2 separate regions of the Homo sapiens genome follow, and region 1 is linked to region 2. Evidence: fine-mapped expression QTL. A gene starts in region 2. The other region holds a variant in brackets. All regions are shown on one strand. Distances are between the middles of the regions.

Region 1 (8,338 bases), 82 kb before region 2:
TGGCCCCCTCCTCAAGGTATCTATCACCTCTCCCATTTCCTTCACTTCTCCCTTTCTATTGCCACCATTCCTTTAGCACGGTGGTTCTTAGTATTTGTGGATCACAGATCTCTTTGAGAAGCAGGTAAATTTACATGCTATTTCCAAAGGCTTGAGAGATTCCCAGAGCCCTGGAGCCCAGGTGAAGAATCCCAGCTTTAGCAAAAGTCTCTTCCACCTTAAACCTTAGCTGCTAGTGGACATCTCTCTTTCCTTTCAAAGCAAGCTTCTAGGACACAGATCTTTGTGCCCCTTTCTTCTCACTCTCTCCTGAATCCCCTGCCCTCACTCCACTAAAAGCAATCCTGCTAAAGTTACCATTGACAGTCCAAATGCCAAACCCAAGGAGTATTTTTCCCCTCTCATTTGACCTCCTGCTGTATATCACAGCAACCCATCCCATATCCTGAAACTCTTTTCCTCAGTGTCTTGACATCACTGTGATAAATCCCTCTTAGAGCCTGGCCAACAATGTCTTCTTTTCTAGGAAATGCCCTTAACACCCAGTTTGGCCCCCAACCACCCTGTTTTTGTACTTGCAGCCCTCCCGCTTCCTGCCAGGGCTGACCACCCAGGGCTGGGCCTCACCAAGCAAGACCAACCAGTGACTTCCCAAGTATTTTGGAATAGAGAAGAAAAATGAAGTTATTGCATTTCCCAAAATGTTCTAGCCACAAATTCCAGTTACATGCCTATATCTGCATATCTGACTACTCCCGTATCTGTGTAAGACTCTCCTTTCTTTCCTTCAGTCGGTTTGCACTGGCTTCTGTTATTTGCCACCAATGAGTCCTGACTGATATAGACATTCCCTTGCTCCCAATTCACCTTTTCTCTCTCTGGCTGCTGCTTCTCAGTCTTCTCAGTAGGCAACTCCTCTCTGTCTGCCCCTTAAACACTGGTTTATCTATCAGAATTGTAGGGGATAATGGTTAGGCAGACAGAAAATTACTCATGTCAGTGAACCAGATTGACTGAAGCCTTTGGATTTAACTGAACCAGGCCAGGCCTCACTCAGAACAACCTATTTGCTATACAGGTTTCCATGGGAACATAAAACCAAGAAAAAACAATCTGAATAAATAGCTCCAAAGTTGGCTTTCATTAAGCCATACTTTAAAGATGAAATACTCAGAACATGTATCATTTTTTACAAAAGACCAGGACCACCAAAAAAAAAATATATATATATATACTCATATATGTCTGATTTGTAAGATCCAATAATCTGGACAATTTCTGATATGATAGTCAAAAGTCTCACTATAAAAGGGATGGGCTCCTAACATTAGATTCTCTTTGATGTGACACAGTGGGAGGTACAAACATCACTTACTGGTAAACTACTGAAAATAGCAGGTTTAAATCTAACTATGATCCAGGGTATAGGCTGTCGTGTGGGACAACTGATCTGGACTCTCAAAGTTCAGGTCATGGAGAACCAAGGAAGGTTGGGGGACTTCCTAGACTGAGACCACAGAGGGATCCTTCCTCTTCCCAACCCCTGCCACAAAAATCCTATTCCTCTGTCTTCTCTATCTTGAGAAATGTCAAGCTGACCAAGCCAGAAATGTCTCTCTTTCTTGCTCCATAAGTAATCAATCACCAAATCCTATGTATCTTATAAACTTTTCTTCTCTATCTCTACCCCACTGCCCTGTTCTTGTCTTCATTGTCTCTCTTAAACTAAATATTAAACAAGCATCCTCCCACTGGTCTTTCTTGCCTCCAGTCTTGCTGCCCTCCAATCTATCTTCCACCCTTCTTTCTCTACAGAGGATGTTTCCAACACAAAAGTCTGATCACACCACTACCCTGCTCAGAATCTTTCAGTGGCTTCCTAGTGTCTTGAAGATAAAACCTAACAAACTCCTTTTCCATGGTAGGCAAGGCCTTCTGTGATCTTCATCCCTGCATTCCTTCCTAGTCTCAGTCTCCTTCTGCACCCATTCACAGCCAGTTCTCCAGACATACTCGATTGCTGTGGTGACTCTGAGTACGTGCTGTCCTCCAGAGCCACTGGGCCTGCACACATGCCATTCTCTGAGCTACATACTATCCCCTCCACCTCTGTAACAACCCCTCCCCACACACTCCTCCTAGAGAAGATATGTCTGTTGGAAAGCTTTGTCTGCATTGCCCAGATCTACTAAGAAGCTCCATTTCTCCGATTTTCTCATTGGTCCAGATATATAACCTCATGAAAGCAATTTATTTCTTTGTATTAAATTATTTGTTTATGCAACTGCCTTCCCTGCTGACTATGAGATTCTTAATGACATGGACCTTGTTTTTAATTTGGCTTTTTTTAAGTGCCTAGTCCATTCTGAGTTTATAGTAGGCACTCAACAATTGCTTATTTTAAAATTGACAGTCATCCCAGTGAAATTGTTTATTTCTTTGTTTTTAAGGACTTTAATTTCCAAATTATAAAGAGCTATGACCAGCTAAAAATAGGAACAAGAAAAGAGACTGGGAATGTGAGCGACTGCAGGAAATGAATTATTTGAAAGTCAAGCCTTTGGCCTTTTCCTTCTCAACGATGAGATAAACCCCAGCCTTCAAAGAATGTTGGGTAAAGTGGGGATGGGTGGGTTAGGGGGTTGAAATGCAAAGCAGGAAACAAGCTCATTTTGGATATCAAATTAATTGTATTGGACTAAGGAAAATTTACCCACACCCCTATGTTCTAACTCTATGATTTTAAAAATACAATATTCTATGCACACAGGAGGTGGTAACCAATGGGAAAAGGAGGAGACTGGTGCCTTCTCAATCTCTGACAAACAATCCAAAGATTGTAGAGATCCAAACAAAAGGATCTCTACATGAAGCACTATTGATACCAAAGAATCTGGCCTCGAGGAGGGATTCTCCACATTTTGCATACCACCAATCACTCTCAAAAAGCCGAGGTCCCATCCACTGCATAGCAAAAGCCCATTTCTGTTTTGTTTTGTTTCTGAGACAGAGTCTCGCTCTGTCGCCCAGGCTGGAGTGCAGTGGCGCGATCTCGGCTCTCTGCAACCTCTGCCTCCCAGGTTCAAGTGATTCTCCTTCCCCAGCCTCTGAGTAGCTGGGATTACAGGCACGTGTCACTTCACCCGGGTAATTTTTGCATTTTTCGTGGAGACGGGGGTTTCACCATGTTGGCCAGGCTGGTCTCGAACTCCCAACCTCAGGTGATCCACCCACCTCGGCCTCCCAAAGTGCTGGGATTACAGGCGTTAGCCACTGCGCCCTGCCACAAAAGCCCATTTCTTTAGAACACATTTATATGTTTAACTTCTTCTTATAATTATGTTTATGATACAGAGTAAGCTTCAAGAACAGAACAACAACA[A/C]GGCAGTGGGATTGTTGGAGCGAATTCCATTATGACTTCTTGCTAGCTGTATGAGAACACTGTGGCCAGAGCTCAGGAGGCCTCCAGGGAATACCTTGCTCTGGGAAACACAGGCTTTGATTCAGGCGGCATTGAGAAATCCTTTGAGGGAGACCTCCCATCTGCTGATGAGAAGAATGCTTCCCTCTCATTCTTGGCACCCTCACTTGGCTGGCAAGGTCAGGTGTGTTTTTCCAGTGACTAGCTCACAGCAGGGATAGAGGAGAGAAGCCCTTGGGGGCTGAGAGACAAAGGGAACCAGACTGCCCAGCGTCTGGTCAAGGTTTCCAAGGTCTTTTTCAAGGTTTCGTTTCCCAGCACTCTGTCTTCAGTTTACCAAGAAAAAGTTCGTAAAAAGAACCTCTTTAGTGGCCTTTGAAGAAGGATAGAGAGAGGGAGGCAGAGTCCAAGGGCCCTGTGAGCAGAGTGGGAAGGACATGGAGAACAAAGAGGCTCACATGATGGGGTAACTAGGGATTGAAGATATCAATCACCTTTGAGAAATAAAGTAGAAAAAGAGAGAGAGGGGAGGAAACACACAAATACCAGAATGGACTAGTGTATACCAGCTATTCAGCTAAAAAATGAAGAAAGAAAATGGACAGCCAGAGACAGCCTTTGAGAAGTTTGTTGAAAAACTATTTTAGATGAACTACCATAAAAGTACTGTTAACAAGTAGGAGAATTTTAAGGGGAACATTAGAAATTCAGCCTCCTGCATTCGTTTGTAAGGGACAAGGAACTAGTCACGCAGTGGAGATGAGAGATAAGCCAGGAATGAAATGAAAACTTTGAAAGTTCCATGCATAGGGATAGCAGGATAATGATTTAAAGCATGAAGGCAGTAATTTAGGTCTAAAATGTCACCACCATTAATTGTAAGTTTTATTGTAGTCTGTTAGGGAAGAGTTCTCTGGGGATTATGAATAACTGCTTCTTGAAATGGAAACTGCAAAAACAATTGACATTTCTACAATCCTTAAGGAATAGAACTTTGAGAAAAATGACTTCTCAGGTGGCTATCTGAACATCAGTGTCTGAATAACTAACATTCATCCTTGCTTTATGTCACCCTCATTAATCAGTTCATATTAAAGATAACGCCATACATGTAATTATAGGCATAGCATTACGTTAAGCATTTAAGACTATCATATTGCACCATATCTTGGCCGTGGTGATGTATGGCCCCAATTTGAGAACACGTGTCAATTTTCCATAGATTTTCATCTGTATTCATGACTCAAGGGCCTTTAGCAAATTAATAATCAAAAGAATTTACAGTAGGCTGCTTTGTAAGTCCACACTTCATTACTTAGCATACTTCTCACTTGTTTTAGCTCTTAAAAACTTGTTCAGCTTCCTAAAAATATGCTTAACCTATTTTCCAATTGCCTTTGTTCCCGTGCTAGATGTTTGTTTGTTTGTCTGTCTGTCTGTCTGTCTTTAGAGATTTGGTAAGGGGGCGGGGGTCTCTCTATGTTACCCATGCTGGACTTGAACTCCTGGACTCAAAGAATTCTCCTGCCTCAGCCTCCCAAGTAGGTGGGACTACAGGTGAACACCACTATGCCTGGCTTGTTAGATTTTTAAAATCTAAGCACATGTGGTTTCATTTATTTTATTTTATTTTATTATGATTTTTTTGAACTTGTATTTTAGGTTCAGGGATACATGTGCAGGTTTGTTATATAGGTCAACTGCATGTCACCAGGGTTTGGTGTACAGATAATTTCGTCACCCAGGTAATAAGCATAGTCGCTGATAGGTATTTTGTCTAGTCCTCTCCCGACTTCTACCCTCCACCCTCAAGTCAGCTGCAGTGTCTGTTGTTCCCCTCCTAGTGTCTATGCATTTTTCTTGTTATAAGCTCCCACTTATAAGTGAGAATATGTGGTGTTTGGTTTTCTGTTCCTGTGTTAGGTTGCCTAGGATAATGGCCTCCAGCTCCACCCATGTTGCTGCAAAGGACATGATCTCATCCTTTTTTATGGCTGCATAGTATTCCATGGCGTATATGCACCACATTTTCTTTATCCAGCCTACAGTTGATGGGAATTTAGGTTGATTCCATGTCTTTGCTATTGTGAATAGTGCCATAATGAACATATGTGTGCATGTGTCTTTATGGTAGAACAATTTGTATTCCTTTGGGTATATACCCAATAATGGGATTTTTGGGTTAAACAGTAAGTCTAGGTTTTGTTTTGTTTTGATTTGTTTGAGACGGAGTCTCGCACTGTCGCCCAGGCTGGAGTGCAGTGGTGCAATCTCAGCTCACTGCAAGCTCCGCCTCCCAGATTCAGGCCATTCTCCTGCCTCAGCCTCCCAAGTAGCTGGGACTACAGGCGCCCACCACCACGCCCGGCTAATTTTTTGTATTTTTAGTAGAGACGGGGTTTCACTGTGTTAGCCAGGATGGTCTCAATCTCCTGACCTCGTGATCTGCCCGCCTCAGCCTCCCTAAGTGCTGGGATTACAGGCATGAGCCACTGCGCCCGGCCTTGTTTTGTTTTTTTGGGACAGAGTCTCACTCTGTCACCCAGGCTGGAGAGCAGTGGCGTACTCTCGGCTCACTGGGACCTCCACTTCCTAGGTTCAAGCAATTCTCATGCCTCAGCCTCCCAAGTAGCTGGGATTACAGGCATGTGCCACCACACCCACCTAAGTTTTTTGTATTTTTAGTAGAGGTTTGCCCATGTTGGCCAGGCTGGTCTTGAACTCCTGACCTCAAGTGATCCACCCAGCTTAGCCTTGCAAAGTCCTGGGATCACAGGCCTGAGCTACTGCACCTGGACTGGGTAAGGCTGTTTTAAGTTCTTTGAGGAATTGCCAAACTGCTTTCCACATTGGCTGAACTAATTTACACTCTCACCAGCAGTGTATAAGCATTCCCTTTTCTTCACAACCTCACCAGCATCTGTTACTTTTTGACTTTTTAGCAATAGCCAGCTGACTGGTGTGAAATGGTCTCTTACCATGATTTTGATTTGCATTTCTCTAATGATTAGGTTAAACATTTTTTCATATGCTTGTTGGCTGCATGTATGCCTTCTTTTTAAAAGGGTCTGTTCACGTCCTTTGCCCACTTTTTAATGGGATTGTTATTTGCTTATAAATTTAAGTTCTTTTAGATTCTAGATAGTCGACCTTTGTGGGATGCATAGTTTGCAAATATTTTCTCCCATTCCGTAGGTTGTCTGTTGACTTGATTGATAGTTTCTTTTGCTGTAAGCATATGTTATTTTAAAATTACATCACATCTGTACACTGAGTCATCTAAACAATGAACGAAATGAAATGATCAATATACTAAAAAGTAATGCTGGATTAAACTAAGTTCAAGGTCTTGCAATAAAATTTAGCTTGTCCCACTTATTCTACATTTTTAACTACAACGAAACTCATCTTTTAAAAAAACTCATCTTTATAAAATTTTCAAGTGCTTAACAGAGGCTTTTATTCACTATTCCTTACAACAACCTTATGGAAAAAAGTCAGCATGCTCCTAATGATGTAACCAGAGAAACAAACAGAGAAGGCAAGATCATTGTCCAGACTTCCCAAACAAATAGGAAAATGGGGATTAAAACTGTCTGTCTAGGCCAGACCTGGTGGCTCATACCTGTAATCCCAGCATTCTGGGAGCCTGGGGTGGGTAGATCACTTGAGGCCAGGAGTTCAAGACCAGCCTGGGCATCATGGCGAAACCCTGTCTCTACAAAAAATACAAAAATTAGCAGGTATGGTGGCATGCACCTGTAATCCCAGCTACTCAGGAGGCTGAGGCAGGAGAATTGCTTGAACCTGGGAGGCAGAGATTACGGTGAGCTGAGATCACACCATGGCACTCCAGCCTGGGACTCTGTCTCAAAACAAGAAAAAACTCTCTGTTTACATATTTATGGTCCATTTTCTCCAGCATATGTTTTTGTGAAGATGCTGTTATCAGGTCCCTGGCCTCCCCTGGGCTGCTCACATCAATCACTAACCCAGCATTACATCAATAAACTCCTGCTGCTCCCACCCTCAGCCTAGATTGCTTGTGGGGGAAGTGGCATTGTCAGAAATCAGCATTTGATATGGCTCTGGAAGATAGCTGCCCGTCTCTTCAAAGGACACCCCTCTTCGGGAACCCCTAAAATAAATTTCCTTTACCTCTTAAGTCAGACAAGCCCAAATATCCTCTTCTAATTTGGTGAAAATCTATCCAGCTGTTTTCATTTGATGTAACAAAGAACAAGCAGAAACTTTGTTTTATCCAAATGGATAATAGTGTCCTGGATTCTGGGACAAACTCTGTGAGAATCAATAATACATGACCCAATACAGTAAAAGTTGCTTCTGTATGTGGTGCTATTTGGAGAGCTAGATTATTATTTCTCCACTGACGACCTGTAGAACAAGGTGTTTGTTAAAATGCAGATCCCTAGGTCCCAACCCAGACCTACTGAATCAGACTTAAAAGTAGAGATGCATTCAAACCAGTGCCACAACCAACACCACTGTGATTCTTATGCAACCTGAAGAAATCTCCAGGCTAGACCGGGACTTCTCAGACTAGATTGCATGCTTCTTGAGAGCATAAATCAGTTCCTAGTTATCCTCACAGGCCCCAATACCCAGCTGAGGTGCTTCATAAGTGTTCATTGATTGAATGCATATTCATTGGTTGTTTATTGTGTATGCATTATAAGTGTCCACAGTCTTTCATGTTAGAATTAGTTCATGTGTAATTAATTTCTTAGGAAGCAGTGTAAACACCTGTTATAAAGTGTAAACACGTATAAACTCTTTAAACTGATTTTTAGTTTTGTCCTATTCCCACTGCATGGAGGCAGAATTAAATAAACCAGAAGCATGACTACTCCCTGCACAACTCACTGTGTGCACCTGCTCCATCCCAGCCCTAGGCTC
Region 2 (8,338 bases):
CCAGCTATCTGCCCACCGCGGCCTCCCAGAGTGCTGGGATTACAGGTGTGAGCTACCGCGCCAGGCCTAAGATCGACTTTCTTTTTATTTTTTTTTTTGAGATGGAGTCTTGCTCTGTGGCCCAGGCTGGAGTGCAGTGGCACGATCTCGGCTCACTGCAACCTTTGCCTCCTGGGTTCAAGCGATTCTCCTGCCTCAGCCTCCCGAGTAGCTGGGACTACAGTCGTGCGCCACCACACTCAGCTAATTTTTTTTTTTTTTTTTTTTTTTTGGTAGAGATGGGGTTTCACCATGTTGGCCAGACTGGTGAACCGCCACCGCGCCCGGCCAAGATTGACTTTCAATTTACAACAGCTTTTAACTAACTTCTAGCTATTTGACTTGGGAAGTCAAGAAGCAAATAATTTCTAAACATCCATTCAGATGCTCAAGGATGCCCCTGGAAAGTACAGTGATAGTACGTTATCAATTTCCCCTGAAATTACAACTTTTTTTTTTTTTTTTTTGAGACGGAGTCTCACTCTGTCACTGAGGCTAGAGTGCAGTGGCGTGATCTCGGCTCACTGCAACCTCCGCCTCCCGGGTTCAAGCGATTCTCCTGCCTCAGCCTCCCGACTAGTGGGATTTCAGGCGTCCACCACCACACTCGGCCCACAACTTCAAATTTTTAAAAATGCATTATATAGCAGGAAATGTAAACTAATGCATCTATCCTCTTTAAGAAATTAATCTGGGCCAGGCGCGGTGGCTCACACCTGTAATCCCAGCACTTTTGGGAGGCCAAGGCAGGCGGATCACTTGAGGTCAGGAGTTTGAGACCAGACTGGCCAACATGGTAAAACCACCCCACCCCCACCCCACCCCCAACTCCGCCTCTATTAAAAATACAAAAATTAGCTGGGCGTGGTGGTGGGCACCTGTAATCCCAGCTACCTCAGAAGGCTGAGGCAGGAGAATCGCTTGAATCCGGGATGCAAAGTTGCAGTGAGCCAAGATTGCACCACCACACTCCAGCCTCGGCAACAGAGCGAGACACCGTCTCAAAAAAAAAAAAAGAAAAAGAAAAAGAAGAAAATTAATCTGGCCAGGCGTGGTAGCTCATGCCTGTAATCCCAGCATTTTGGGAGGCTGCAGTGGGCAGATCACTTGAGGTCAGGAGTTCGAGACCAGCCTGGCCAACATGGCGAAACCCCATCTCTACTAAAAATACAAAAATTAGCCAGGCGTGGTGGCAGGCACCTGTAATCCCGGCTATTCTGGAGGCTGAGGCAGGAGAATCGCTTGAACCTGGGAGGCGGAGGTTGCAGTGAGCCAAGATGGCGACATTACACTCCAGCCGGGCAACAAGAACAAAACACTGTCTCACACACACACACACAAAGAAAAGAAATCAATCTGAAGTCTTCCTCTGTTCAGGACTTCTAACTCAGAGACAAATTTTCAGACAGGCAGAGGCAAATTTCTCTAAATTTTAGGTTTCTAGGATTGATGATTAAGTTGAATGTAATGTTTAAGCTGTAGAAAGTATGCCTCTTTCCAAAAGCCTGTAGCTGGCCACAGATTAGTTCTGGGTGAAGCTTACTAATCATTAATGGATTTATGAAATTCAAACTACTTCAGAGTAAGCCTCCTGACAAGTAGGGAAAAAAATCCAGTTTTCTCATTCAGTTCTTTCCACCAAGCTAAAATGAGGATTCAATCTCAAATTGATGTTCCAAACTATCAGATAGTTTTAAATGATTCTAGAAGTTGAAGTGGAAAAATATAAATACAACAGCTGATAGTAATTCAAGACTGGCTTATGTCAAACAATTGCATTTCTAACCTGAGTTAATTCAATAACGTGAAATTTGAAATAAGATTTTTTTATCTTAAGTTTAAAATCATAAGGTTCTATAATATTGGATGTCAGTTGGTTGCAGTTCTCACCTATTTGAAAAAAAAATTGAAACTACTTGTCGCTAAACCATGGTAACTCAAAAACATTAAAGGCAAATATCTACTAAGGCACTATATTTCATTTCATAATTTATTTCTCCATCCCCCAAAAAAGGCATCACCTAGTTATTTATAGGACACTATCACTATTGCAACATAACAGAAAAATCTTAACATCATTGATAACTGTAGCATTTTAGTGTGTAAAATCTATATTAGATTTTAGGTGTCAAATCTATACTAGATTCTAATAGTGCACTCTACATTCAACCTCTGATTTAAAGAGTTTCATTTTAACCCAGCATTGTTTAAATTAATTTTAGGATGTGTTATGTCAGTCAAGATATACTTGCTTCTACTGAGAGACTTCTATTAAATATGCATTCAAGTATATATTTTACAAGGCATGACCTTGCGAGCCCTAAAGAGTGAGACTAAACTGCAGCTACAAATAAATGGTGCAGGAAATCAAAGCAAACTATATTCAGAGTCTAAATCCAAAATATGCATTCTGGTTCTTAAATTCCAGGTTTGGAAAGAAATGCCAACAGTAATAAATAAATAAACTGCTTTGAAAGCATCTCAAATTCCTCAAAAGTGCTTAAACAAAAGACTCAGCTTTGAGTACAACCTTAAGCTATCTCAAAACAAATAAACACACTTGATAAGGCTTAGAATGAAATTACCTCAGTCACTCACTGGAATGCAACAATGCATTCGCAAAGTTATTCTGAAGTAAGCTACTCCAACTAAACCACACTGAAAAGGAGAGAACGTGGATAAACTAAACATGTTTTGTGAAATACCTGTTTTGTATTGGCCTGAGTTTTTTAAAAGTTACATCTCATTCATTATCAGTATTTAATCTGCAAGAATATCATCAAAGGATGTCAATATGGACAAGCAGAGACAAGAAACATCAGACTTTCAGGGAGCCTATCTTCACAACCCTGAGTTATTAACTGAAGTTCTCAAAGTTAGATGAGTTAAGATACAGACAACGTGCTTTGCACAAATGCTTTGCTTATAGTAACCACTCAATAGTCATTAACAAGAATTTATTAACTATCCACCAAAACACAGTTTCAAACCCTACCGACAACTAACCACAAATTGCACCACTTTTCGGGCCGACTTCTACGGACGGTGCACAGAAGCAATAAATACACTTTTAAAACTCCCCAACTTGAAGACCAAAAAGATACAATAACTTAAACTGCTTTCAAAAACTACTGGAGTGTCATGCCTACAAATTCAGAACCTGGCTTAAAAGCTAGTTAACTGACTAGAATTCTTGGTAGACCCAAAGCCAACTAAATCAGGAACACTTAAAGGTCAAAGGCGTCCAAGCCGGGAGCGATGTGCTCCACTGTTACATGATCCCCGCCTCCTACAGGAACAGGGGACTGAACCAAAGGCAGTTGCGGCCGAAGTGCAGGCGACACACAGGGTTACACATCACCTTCGGAGATTTCCTCCAGGAATCAAGACGCTTCCCCCTTGGGTCCAGCGACTCACAGGTGACCCCGGATCTCAAGAGTTCTCGTCTCCCCCACCCCCCACTTAACCCCGCGAGCGCCGCCCTCGGCCCCCAGACCTCCCCCTGCACCCCCGGCTTCCGCGCACAGGACCGGCGGGGCCGCCGCTCCAGCCTCCACCCCAGGCCCGGGGCCTGGGGAAATGCGGCCCCGCGGCCCGCGCCCCCAGCCCGGCCCCCGCGCGCGCGGCCGGGACAGGATACTGAACACCGTCCGCTCCCAGGGCTCCAGCATGTAGAGCGCCGTGACCAGCAGGTACTGGTAGTAGAACCAGGACATCTGCTTCCAGGCCCGCGCCAGCGCCATCCCCGCCATGCGCCTCCCGCGATGCAGCTCACACGTCAGTCTGTCCGGCCGGCCGCCCGCTCACGTCCTAAAGCCCCCGGCCGCCAGGCCCGCCCGCCCGCCACCCAGCGCCCATTGGCCCGCCCGGCCCCGCCGTCACCCGCGGCACGCCCAGACCCGCGCGCGCCCCGGCCGCCGGCCCCCAGCCCCGCCCGACCCGCGCTCATTGGCCAGGCCGCTACCTCGCGTCGCGTCGTCCCCTCCCGTTTCCCCGCCCGGGCATCGCCCACGCTAGCCGGAGAACGGTCCCCGCGAGAGCGCCCAGCCGCGCCCCACCCCGCCCGGGCCGGCCGGTGGTGGGCGGGGCGTCAGTGCCGGCCGGGGTCCCGGGGCCCCCGCAGCCCAGCGGGCGCTCGGTCCGTCCAGACTGGCCCAGAGCGCTTGCGGAAGAAATATTTCTGGAACACTTGTTATGCCTCAGGCATCCTTCTGAGAAGGAGGATTGCCAGGGAGAACCGGAATGCCTTCGGTTCCTTACCTTGTGCAGCTGGCGGCCTAGCTGGGAGACAAGCATTAATCAAGTCGTGATCCGTGTAAGAGGAGATAAGGGGCTGAGAGAGGGTGAGGAGGCGAACGCCACCTAATAAGGAGGTCTGGAAAGGCGTCCTTGTAGAAGGGATGCACATTCGGCCTCCTTCCTCCCTTCCCCCACCCATGCACACACACACACACACACACACACACACACACACACACACACACACCCCTAGACGGACATAACCCATGCACTCCCTAACCCAGAGACCACTTACCAAAAACATCTATCTGCCCACCTCTTAGTGGCTGTAGGTAACCACCAAGTGGGTCAAGGCCAGAAGCGCGCTGATCTAGTGGGTTCTGCAGAAGACAGGCAGCTTGAGATTGGTGTGAGGGCTGGTGATACTTCCCTAGAGATGCACTCCTGGATGCCCAGATTTTCCCACTGCCAGATGGGCCAGCAACATTGCACTGGCCACAAGGAGCTCCATGCACTGGTGTAGCATGTGAACTGCCACAATTAAATGGCCTGCTGTTTAAATGTTAAAAGTCTTCCAGGTTAAACATACTACTGCTTAAACTTTAAAAGTTTCATGGTTAATAACTATTCATTAAAAGTACCAAGTGCCGGCCAAGCGCCGTAGCTCATGCCTGTAATCCAAGCACTTTGGGAGGCTGAGGCTGGCGGATCACTTGAGTCCAGAAGGTCGAGACCAGCCTGAGCAACATGGTGAAACCCCGTCTCTACCAAAAAAAATAAGTAAATACATAACAAAAAGTTAGCCAGGGGTGGTGGCGTGCACCTGTAGTCCCAGCTACTCAGGAGGTTGAGGCGGGAGGATTGCTCGAGCACGGGAGGTCGAGGTTGCAGTGAGCCAGGATGGTGCCACTGCACTCCATCTTAGGTGGCAGAGCAAAAGAAAGGAAAGAAAGGAGACAGAGAAAGAGAGGAGAAAACAGAAGAGAAGAGAAGAAAAGAAAGAAAACAGTAAGTAATATCAAGTGCCAGACATTGGGATAGCAAGCCAGATAGACTGAGACCTGCCTTCATAAAGTACCCAGTCTGCTGGGGAAGAGAGGCAAGTTAATGGATTACAGTGAGGTGTGGTAAATGATATTTTTGTGGATCGTATCCTTTAGGATACCAAGATAGCCCAGACAAAATCAGATTGGGCTTGTGAAAGTCTTCTGAGAAATGGTGCTTGAACTGAGTGTTGAAGGACAAGCAGAAATGGAAGAATGAATGAGCTTGGGGAAGAGAGGGTGAGACAGACATTCTAAGGATGAAGTTGTGATGTTTTTAGAAGACTGGAAGAACTTCCATGTGGCTGGAGCAAAAAGAATGTATATGCAGTAGCAAGAGATGGGCCTAGACAGCAAACAGGGACCATATTCTGAAGGACCTTGTTTGAGAAGCTAAGAAATTTTTAACTTGATGTCCAAAAGTTACTGGAGCCAACAACTTAAATAAGATTTTCTTTCAGGGCTGGGTGTGGTGGCTCACACCTATAATCCCAGCACTTTGGGAGTCCAAGGCGGGTGGATCACATGAGGTCAGGAGTTCCAGACCAGCCTGGCCAACATGGTGAAACCCCGTCTCTACTAAAAATATAAAAAATTAGCCGGGCGTGATGGTGGGTGCCTGTAATCCCAACTATTTGGGAGGCTGAGGCAGGAGAATCGCTTGAACCCGGGAGGCGGAGGTCGTAGTGAGCTGAGATCACACCATTGCACTCCAGCCTGGGCAACAAGAGCAAGACTCCGTTTAAAAAAAAAAAATGCTTTCGGAACAAGACTTGGGTGTGGGTAGTAGCCTGGAGGCTACCGAGGGAAAAAACAGGTTGGGAAGACATTACAAAGGTAGAACCCACAAATACTTGAAACCTCCTTACCCCTCAGAGATGCAGGTACACGTGCCCTCCTACTTTCAAACTTAACTGTTTTGGACTTCTTTCTGTCCCTGTTCCTGTTCAGGCACAGGCAAGCTCATTCCTTTTTCCTCGAGAACTCCAACTACCCTCAGCATCTGGTGATGCTACATAAAATTCATCCAAGATTGGAAGCATCACCCGTAGCCACCCTTCCTTTACTGGGTCCACTCCCTAGCACCATGTCTGCCAGGTGGTTGTCCTCACTGTTAGTAGCTCCCAATCCACTGCGTGTCTCTCGGAGACCAGCTCTACCACCTCATCTCACTAAAGTTGGTGACTGACTAGAAATGAGGAAAAGAGGCTGAGATCCTGGATGATGACAATACAAAGAAACCGAAGGAAGACGTTTGGCTGAAAAGATATTGATTTTGTTAGGATGAAGCTATGTCTGAGGTACCTGAGGGACACTTAAATGGAGGTGTCCAGGGGACAATTGAGCACATGGTTTGGAACTCAGAAGTGAAGCCTGAATGGAACTAGAGGCATATGAATTTTCAATATGTCCCTGGTCATTGAAGCCAGAAGAGCAGATGAGGTCACCCAAGGAAAGCACATAGAATGGGAAGAGCAGGGTACAGAATAAACCCAGAGATTCTGGCATTTGGCCAATGAGAGTCCAAAGGAAGCCAATACAGGGAAGGAGCTACCTGAGATTTGACAGCAATGAGGAGAGACATACAGGAGAAGCTAATGGAGGAAGGGATAGCCAGCAGAACAAATGGCTCAGGGAGGATAAGCAAAATAAGGAAGGGAAGCGCCAATTTGTTTTGTCCACATGGGGCTAGATTGATGACTCAGCATTTCATTGTGGAATGATGATAGGACAGAAGCCGGATTATAGAAGGCTGAGGAGAGAACAGGAAGTAAAACAATGAGGACAGTTAATTCAGGCTTAGTTTTGCAGGAAGCTTGCCTGTGAAGGGAAGGAGATAGAATGGTGGCAAGGGTTTCAGTTTGGTTTCATTTTCAGATGGGAAAGGAGTAAGCAAGTTTATGGGCTTAGAGTAAAGATATGGATAAAGATGGTGGGCTGGGGGACCAGATCCAAAGCCTTAATAAACAGGAACTGGTAGCTCTTTCCCCAAGAGGAGGAGGATGGAAAGATGGGAGCCAGATGGACATAAACACAGACAAGTAAGTTAAGGAACTCCCTACCTTACAACATCAGTTTTCTTAGTGAAAAAATAAAGGCCTCTTGTTGAGAGTGAGCAAGATGTTGAAGAGTGGAGGGTATGAAAAAGAAAAAGGGAGATGGGAGAAGTTTCCTAAAGCTGCCTAAGGATTGTCAGGCAGAAAAACCATACAGTTTTTACCAACAATACACAAGTACCGAGTATATATAGAACTAGAGAAGTTGAATTAGGAGACTTCCTCCAAGGCAGGGTTTGCTGGATGGATACAATGGAGAAACAAGCAAGAAGGTTGATGGAGAGAGAATAATTGAAATAATGACTAGGAGAATTAGGTCACGGAGGGAAGTAAATGATGAAAAGATAAAATGGAGTAGTCCAGAGCTGTGTGAGGTTGGAAACTGTAGGAGTAGGTGCATGGGAAAGAGTCTATGTTGGAGGAGGAGGGCCACGGCTGTGCTTCTGAAGCTTAGGAGTACAGAAATAGGCCAGTCTTAGACAATGACCAGGCACAGGTTGTGACCATGGGATAGGCAGCTAAAGTGGAGTGGAGGGGATAGTAAAGACCACAGGAAAGATAAAGTTGTCCAGGATGATGGCAGAACTAAGTGTCGAGAGGAAAAGTCTGTAAAGCAAATGTCAAAGTCTTCAGTGAGCATAGAGGAAAACTCAGGAGACAGGTGGATGAAGGGGGCAAAGCCCAGTGGCACATGGTTTTGGTTAGGAGGCAGTACTGGAGAGCAAGAAGAAAGCCAATCCCGCCCCACCCCCAGTCCCACCCCCAGCTCTCTGGTAGGAGGACTTAGGTCATATCCTCAGGGGAAAAGAAAGAGGTAGAGTGTTCCCAAAGAGGGTGACAGTAGAGGAGTCTTTGTTTATACAGGAAAGTGAAGTCGGGGGCAAGAGAGAGAGGGTTGGCAAGAAGGGTTCTGTTGCAGGGATGTGCCTGGAAGATGGAAATACCAGGGCAGAATGGGAA

Direction of the effects. Alleles are on the strand shown, and positions count from the first base shown. SD is a standard deviation of normalised expression in the study named.
For the expression in pancreas of the gene that starts at base 3,824 in region 2, allele C in region 1 goes with a lower level than allele A (small effect, 0.33 SD a copy in GTEx).

What was found.
Region 1: its variant is fine-mapped to the expression of SPTSSA in pancreas (GTEx, PIP 0.92).

The regions. Positions count from the first base shown.
Region 1 is chr14:34,376,100-34,384,437 of GRCh38, forward strand. No RefSeq gene overlaps it. Among named protein-coding and RNA genes, the nearest start is that of SPTSSA, 82 kb to the right of the region's middle. The variant A/C (reference allele first, on the strand shown) is at 3,383.
Region 2 is chr14:34,458,417-34,466,754 of GRCh38, forward strand. SPTSSA (serine palmitoyltransferase small subunit A) reads right to left here and starts at 3,824. Exons shown (of 2, transcript NM_138288.4): 1 at 3,680-3,824. The coding sequence starts at 3,791. RefSeq lists enhancers at 175-676, 3,037-3,146, 3,687-4,637 and silencers at 3,547-3,716, 3,837-4,346.